Linked DNA regions of Homo sapiens. The protein of the gene in region 2 purifies or fractionates together with the protein of the main gene of each other region. This does not show direct contact. Each region holds a gene or a part of one and is shown on either strand. Other genes may lie near its edges.

Region 1 (3,651 bases), on a different chromosome or scaffold from region 2:
CTAGGAAGCTCGTCCGCCTCTTCTCCAGCCGTTCACAAGGGGTGAAGGTTTTGGTTGACTGGCTGATGCGGGCCTTGAGTCTCTGCAGGGAATAAACCTCTTCGAGAGGTGGGATGGCAGCGTGCAGAGTATAATCCCCCTGCAGATACTGGAGTCGCAGGGCAGCAAGAACCTGGAGGTTTTCTTCCGGGGCTGGATGGTGGCCATGGATAACCGCTTCGTGGGCCTGAAAGGAGACAGTCAACAGCTTTCCGGTCAACGCACTGCCATGCCATGGGATGCCCACGTCGCTTGCTCCCTCACTTCATGAGGGTTTCTCTCAAACTCACCTTCCCTGACTGCCCTGGCTAAAACTGTACCCTCACCCCTGGCTCACTGCTTTAAATTTAATTTTCTCCCTAGCACAGATACCATCTAACACACGTCACATATTTTATTCCTTGTGCTCTCTCTCCTGTCAACTAGAACAGTCCCTGGAACGGAGGTTCAAATAAAATGTGTAGCAGGTTTCATTCTACAAACGAATGAAAGAGCAGCTGGTCTTGTCTTTGCTGGGAAATCCACAGGTGTGCCTCATTTCTAAGTACCAGTTAACTTACAAGGCTAAGTATTAACAGGTTTCACCCTTGCTTGCCGGCAAAGAAATCTGTTTCTAACTATTCCTTTTACCTGTTCAAACATAAATGCAAACTCCACACTGTCTTTTGGCACGTTGTCTGTGTCCAGGAAGCAGTAAAGTTTGAAGTAGAATTTCCATGGCAGGTCCCCAACCTCGGATGTGGCAGCCAGCCTACAGAGAGGAGTCAAGAGAGGCTCAGAATATGAACGAGAAGGGCCTTCAGTGACCCGCAGGGACCTGACTTTACATGGTGTATTCTAAGGACACAGACATTCTGTCCGGGCCCAGAAAACAGTGGATAGAGATGGGGATAGAGGAATAAACAGAGTGAAAAAACGTACTTTCATCCTGATTTTGCTTTAAGAAAACAAACAGGCAGCCCCTAGTTTAACCAGCTAACAAGTGTTTTCAGAGAGCCGCATTCGAATTAGTACCAGCTAAGCATTATGCTGAGTCCACGGGAAGAAAAGAAACAAAAGCCTGTTTCTTTATTACCTTTACCAAGCCTCAGATACATTATGATAACATTTATAAAAATTGATGTGAATACTCTTGTATGAGGGCTGTGTTTATACTAAGCAGGAATACCTTCGCGCTACTTCGAGGATATGAAGTCACAGATCAAATAGCGTAGGTCTACAGGCCAGGTGCAGTGGCTCACGCCTGTAATCCCAGCACTTTGGGAGGCCCAGGTGGGCGGATCACCTGAGGTCAGGAGTTTGGGACTAGCCTGACCAACATGGCCAAACCCCATCTGTACTAAAAATACAAAAATTAGCTGGGCGTGGTAGTACATGCCTGTAATCCCAGCTACTCGGGAGTCTGAGGCAGGAGAACTGCTTGAACCCAGAAGGCAGAAGTTGCAGTGAGCCAAGGTTGCGCCACTGCACTTCAGCCTGGGCAACAGAGCAAGACTCCATCTCAAAAAAAAAAAAAAGTAGGTCCATTTTATATTGTAGACATAACACATAGTTTAAAGAGTTTATAAGCTGGCTTCAGTCAATCAGCCCAATTTCAAAGCTAATGACAACTGGAAACCTAAAAAATCAAGAAATACCCAGACGGGTCCAACATGGAACTGAGAAAAGGAATGGGGTAAAAAACCACTGACAAGTTACATCACGTAAGACCGTAGCTTTATCTAGGAATCGAGAAAAATAGCGGATATGCAAAGTTAAACAGGCATCAACACAGGTAAAATAAAACTAACTCCAATACAGCGTGAAGCCACAAATGGAATGGGAAGCTCAAACCCTGAACCCTGCTCTGCAATTTCTCTTATTTGCTCTTCTGACACAGTAGGGAAAAGGAACCTACTTTTCAAACTTGGCTAAGACATCAGCTACGACGGTTCGACTTTCAATGGCTTTGTCGACGTGGCCGTTGTATTCAAACAAAGCAAACATGTTCCTGCTGTCCTCCATGGCCAGGCCTCGGATCAGCTTCTCCACCACCTGGAAGACACACCAGGGGGACTTCAGTTCCACAGGCTGCGGCCCCAACACGTGTTCCCAGAACGTGCCATCACCTGATCCCAGAGGGAGCTGCTGGCACAAGGGCGTCTCCAGCCTCCTAAAAATGTTACCCGTGTGGTCATCCCAGAATTTCAAAAGTACTATTTTCCCTTTGTTCTCTTGAGATTAGGTTTATCTCTTTCTTGCTGAAAATAACTCAGGGTATTTTGCCCATCGGTAGAGGCAGATGCTGGGCTGATTTCTTGCAAACCTATATTAACAGGAAAAGCGGGTGAAAAGCTTCAGTCCTGTCTTTTGGCTGATAAATTTATGAACTCCAAGGAACAACAGAGACTCCAGATGACGTTTTTTTTTTTTCCATAAGAAGCCTTGGGGGGTGGGGGTCGGGGTGGTGGTTATTGGATTACCACCCTTTTGGCCAACTGGTTTTATAATAGTAAGTTCAAATTTTAAAAAGAAAATGTGTTCATCTGATATTCATCTAGCTAGTCACGTGCAAACAAACACTTTGTTGCAGAAGCACTGCAATAAACCCTCATCAAAGTGGCTGGACCTGAGCCAGGTCTGCAGCTCTGCTAGACACTCAGCTGCTTCTCAGATTAGCAAGATTATGTCTCAGGTACTTTATCTCTGTGTTTCCACTCAATATATATATTTTTATCTCTATATTCGTGTGGTTGCTTCTGGGTTACATGCATTTCCTTAGTATTGAGAGCTGTACTAAGCAAACTGCAACTGTGCAGGACAGCCACTCTAATGCTGCACAATGTTCCTGACGCAGGTGTATCTGCAGCAAAGGCATCTAACAGAACAAGCAGCAGCTGCCTCTCCTCACCTCCCCAGCGGTGGTGTGGGAGTTGATGGTGATCTTGCAGGAGCCGCCGCCATGGCAATAGACCGTGGATGTCATTTCCTGCCTGTGGATCAGAGCTTCTATTTCATCTCGGGAAGGCACAAACTCTCGGCATTTGGTTTTCTTAAGAGATTCGTAAGTGAAGAGAGCGTATTTTTCCATCTCGCTTCCTGGAAACTGTTCCCGTATCCTAGGAGGCAAACACTAACTGTTAATTTTTAGACTGATGGGGGCTGGCTGCTGGGAGGAACTAGGCTGTGCCAAGGTTCTGTAGACCAAAGCAGTGAATGGTCCCCCACTGGTGAATGGAGCAAGCACCAGTGACTTCTTGGCAAGGGCCCGCTTCATTTTGTGCAGTTCAATTTAAATACAAAAAACCCCTAAAGAGCCAATGTCTCACTGGGAGCAACTGTGCTGCCAACTCACCTCTGCAGCGTTGTTAATACTTGAAAGAGTCATGCCTCATCCTATCATATGAAAATTCTTGGCCGGGCGCCGTGGCTAACGCCTGTAATCCCAGCACTTTGGGAGGCCGAGGCGGGTGGATCACCTGAGGTCAGAAGTTCGAGACCAGCCTGGCCAACACGGTGAAACCCCATCTCTACTAAAAGTACAAAAAATTAGCCAGGCGTTGTGGCGGGCGCCTGTAATCTCAGCTACTCAGGAGGCTAAGGCAGGAGAATCGCTTGAACCCAGGAGGCAGA
Region 2 (3,751 bases):
AGTTTGAGACCAGCCCTGGCAACATAGTGAGATCCCGTCTCTACAAAAAATAACAAAAATTAGCCAGGCATGTTGGCACGTGCTGGTAGTCCCAGCTACTTGGGAGGCTGAGGCAGGAGGATCCCTTGAGCCTAGGAGGTCAAGGCTGCAGTGAGCCATGGTTGCAACACTGCACTGCAGCCTGGGCGACAGAGACCCTGACTCCAAAAAAAAAAAAAAAAAAAAAAAAAAGGCACAAAACCCCAATAAATAGAATTTCCTTCTCTGCATAATGCTGCTATGAACATGGTACAAATAGCTGTTTTCATTTCTTTGGGGTATATATCCAGAAGTGGAATTGCTGGATTATGTGGTAATTATGTTTAATTTTTTGAGGAACCACTCTACGGTTTTCCACAGCAGCCACACCATTTTACATTCCCGTCAGCGATGCACAAAGGGTTCCAATTTCTCCGCATCTTTGCCAACACTTATTTTCTTTTTTTCCTCTTCTTCCTCCTTCTCCCCCCTTGAAACTTTTTGTTTTCTTCTCGTTTTTGTAGAGAACAGGGTCTCCTTATGTTGTCCAGTCAAGTCTGCCAACTCCTGGGCTCAGGCTATCCTCCTGTTTCTGCCTCCCTAAGTGCTGGGATTTTAGGCTGAAGCCACTGCGCCCAACTCCCTGCTTCTTCAACTGCCATCCTAATGAATGTTAAGTGGTATCCCACAGTGGTTTTGATTTGCGTTTCCCTAGTGATTAACTATGGGAAGCAGAAGTGAATGAGACAGAATTGTGATCTTGTCAGAAAAATCGTCTTGGAAAAGCCAACGTCCAACAGAAATGGTTAGAACAGGGGTCGCTGGCTTCCATCCAGACAGTATCCCTGACCCTTGTTGGGGCAATGTCACAGAGGCTCCTGCTGAGCAGGGAGGTCTGGATTCCACACTCTTCTGCCACTGCCCAGCTCTGGACCTAAGCTTTCTATGGGTGTCAAGAGGACAAGCAGCCGTGCCCATTTGTCTCGCTGCTTGTTTTTTTGGGTGTCAGATGCGCCAGCAGGAGGGACAGTGTGCGGGAAGGTGCTGGTCTGAGGCTGGTCCTGCCAAAGCCCCGCAGGCTCACTCCCTGGTCGTGCGGAGGTGGCTGGTGCTCGCTGGTCTCCTCAGCACCCGCAGGCCGGGCCCGGGGGCCAGGCAGTTGTCCTCTGTGGAGCCTTATCGGGGCCCACAGGCCCTGCTGCCTTGACCCCACCCGGGCCCCAAAACTCGGCCTGGGGACTGCACAAGGCGGGGCTACGCGGGGCAGGGCCCGTCTGCTGGGGGAGTGCGCTGGGCGGCGGCGGGAGGGCAGGGTCCCTGGGCTCCGACAGCCCCTCCGGCGGAGGTCAATCACAATGAAACCGTGTCCAGCGGACCCGGCAGGGGCTCGCCGCAGTCTACCTGGCCACCGTGAAGCCATGACCTGGCGCCCGAAGCTGCCGGCCGGGGTGTACTCCGCGCGGGACCCTGGGCCTCCGCAGGCCCCGGCGGGGTCGCCCCGAGGCGGGCCTGGCGAGTCCAATCGCCCTGCCCGCAGGGGACCCGCCCCTCATGGGTCCCGCCAATCGCAGGGTACGTTGCTCGGCAGTGCTGCGCGGCTTGGCCTATGGGACGGCGCGTTGTTGGGCTGCAGCGCCGCAGGCCGCACCCAGGTCGGGCGGTGGGGGCGAGCGGAGGGGCTGAGGGGCGGAGAGGCCTGGCGGGCCGCTGCTGCGGGCCAGGGGACGGGGGCGGAGCCGGAGCCGGAGCCGACGGGCGGTGGCCGCACTGGGACCCCGGAATCCCGCGCGCTGCCCACGATTCGCTTCTGAGGTGAGGCTAGCTAGCGGGGGCGGCGGGGGCCCGGTTCGGGCTGAGGCGGCGGCGGGGGCGCGGGGAACTGGGCCGCGGTTGCGGCGGGCGGGGGCCGCGGGGCCTGCGGCGGCCCGGGCAGCCTCGGGGGCGGGGAGGCCGCTGCGGCGCCGAGGGCGTCTTGGAGGGGTCCCCGCGGGGCCTTCGGCCTGGGCCGAGCCGGGGAGCGAGGGCGCCGCAGATCTTTCATCGGGATAGGACCCCGGGGACTAGGCTTTTCCCGGGCCGCTCGTTCCTGGCCGGCTTGTGGGCTGCAGGGGTGGGGGCGGAGGAGGACGACCCTGGCTGGACGCTGGTCAGCATCCTGCTTGTGAGACCGGTTCCGCGGTCCGCAGCGCTGGTGGCTGCAAGGTTTGTGTACGGACGCATCTGTCGGCTCTCGTATTTAAAAACGACGGCTTCTGCCAAAAGAGAAAAGCCATATCTGCCGACGGACGCTCGAGAGATAATCGTGGAACTTTATCAGCGATGGGGCTGTTGGTCACCTTTGCCCTCCCTCTCTTTTCTTTTTTCTTAATCTTTTATTTTCGTTTTTTGGGAGATGTCAGAGGGCCTTTCCCTGTTAGGATGACTTTTATCTTTGCTCTTGTAATGGCTCAAGATAGTTGGGAGGTAATTTGCATTCACTTTATGCATACCCACCTTGAAAAACGTATTTTGGTTCGCCTGAAACTGTTGTTGGTTTGAGCATAATTTATGTTTAGAAAGACAAAAAGCAATTGTCATATCTCCAAAGACCAAAGACATAGCTGATAGCTGTATGCATTACTGGTAAGTTAAAGAAAGATTTTTTGTGTGAAAAATTGACTGAGATCTTAATGGGGATAGGAAATAGAATGCTGATAGGTCGACTGTGTCTATGAGTAGAGGCGCCTAGTGAAAACAAGCTTGGAGTGGATGAGTAGGAGTTCAACAGGCACCAGAGAGAGGAGGGCATTTCAGGCAGAGGGTGTGAATTGTATGAAAGTGAGTTTGTAAACTTTGGAGCCTTGAATGGACAAAGGCCCGCGATGATACCTTTTTTTTTTGAGACGGAGTCTCGCTCTGTCGCCAGGCTGGAGTACAGTGGCGCGATCTCCAGTCACTGCAATCTCCGCCTCCCAGGTTCAAGCAATTCTCCTACCTCAGCCTCCCGAGTAGCTGGGACTACAGGCGCGCGCCACCACGCCCAGCTAATTTTTGTATTTTTAGTAGAGACGGGGTTTCACCATGTTGGCCAGGATGGTCTCAGTCTCTTGACCTCGTGATCCGTCCGCCTAGGCCTCCAAAAGTGCTGGGATTACAGGCGTGAGCCACCGCGCCTGGCCTACGTTAAAATTTTAATATACTCCTTTGATTTTGACAGTGGAGAAAACTAGAATAGTAAAGTTGTCTTTTCAGGAAGTGGATGATTTGGGCAGTCAAAACTGCTTTTCAGAGTTTCGATGTGGTTTACAATGGTATGGACAGCTGGTATGATTTGTTAGTTTTCTACTTGTGGTGTCTTTAGGTTTTAAAGTTTCGGAGAGTCGCTGAGTGATGTGAGTCTAAACTCTAGCCAGTCCCCGAATTGTGAGATAGTTTTCCTTCTAAAATATACTTCGTACAAGCTGGTCATTTTTCCCCTTAATTCTTTTGATGTTATCTGATATACTGAGAAGGTTTTGTTTGGTGTTCAGTTTTGTGTTACTGATTTTGCCATAAAAACTGTTTATTTACATGATTTTTAGTTTTTAGTTCTTATAGTCTTTGAATTGAATAAGAAAAGTAAATACTGAAATGCTTTGAAAGATAACAAAATATTTACTTATTGCTTGAAACTTAGAGTTAGATTGACTGCCCTTCCTTTCTTTCCTTCCATGTTTACCTCTTAACATATACACATATGTAGAGAGAATAGTAT

What was found. Proteins that work in one complex are often made in the same cells at the same time.
Region 1: the proteins of ADD1 (region 2) and MYO10 purify together in Homo sapiens (affinity purification with western blotting; one study listed by BioGRID). This does not show direct contact.

Annotation. Positions count from the first base shown.
Region 1 is NC_000005.10:16,670,753-16,674,403, forward strand, and holds part of MYO10 (unconventional myosin-X), read right to left. Parts: intron 3,138-3,651; coding exon 2,930-3,137; intron 2,074-2,929; coding exon 1,937-2,073; intron 791-1,936; coding exon 670-790; intron 227-669; coding exon 1-226. UniProt on the Homo sapiens protein: Myosins are actin-based motor molecules with ATPase activity. Unconventional myosins serve in intracellular movements. MYO10 binds to actin filaments and actin bundles and functions as a plus end-directed motor.
Region 2 is NC_000004.12:2,842,195-2,845,945, forward strand, and holds the start of ADD1 (alpha-adducin), read left to right. Parts: upstream 1-1,649; 5' UTR 1,650-1,830; intron 1,831-1,955; exon of another isoform or gene 1,956-2,640; intron 2,641-3,751. UniProt on the Homo sapiens protein: Membrane-cytoskeleton-associated protein that promotes the assembly of the spectrin-actin network. Binds to calmodulin.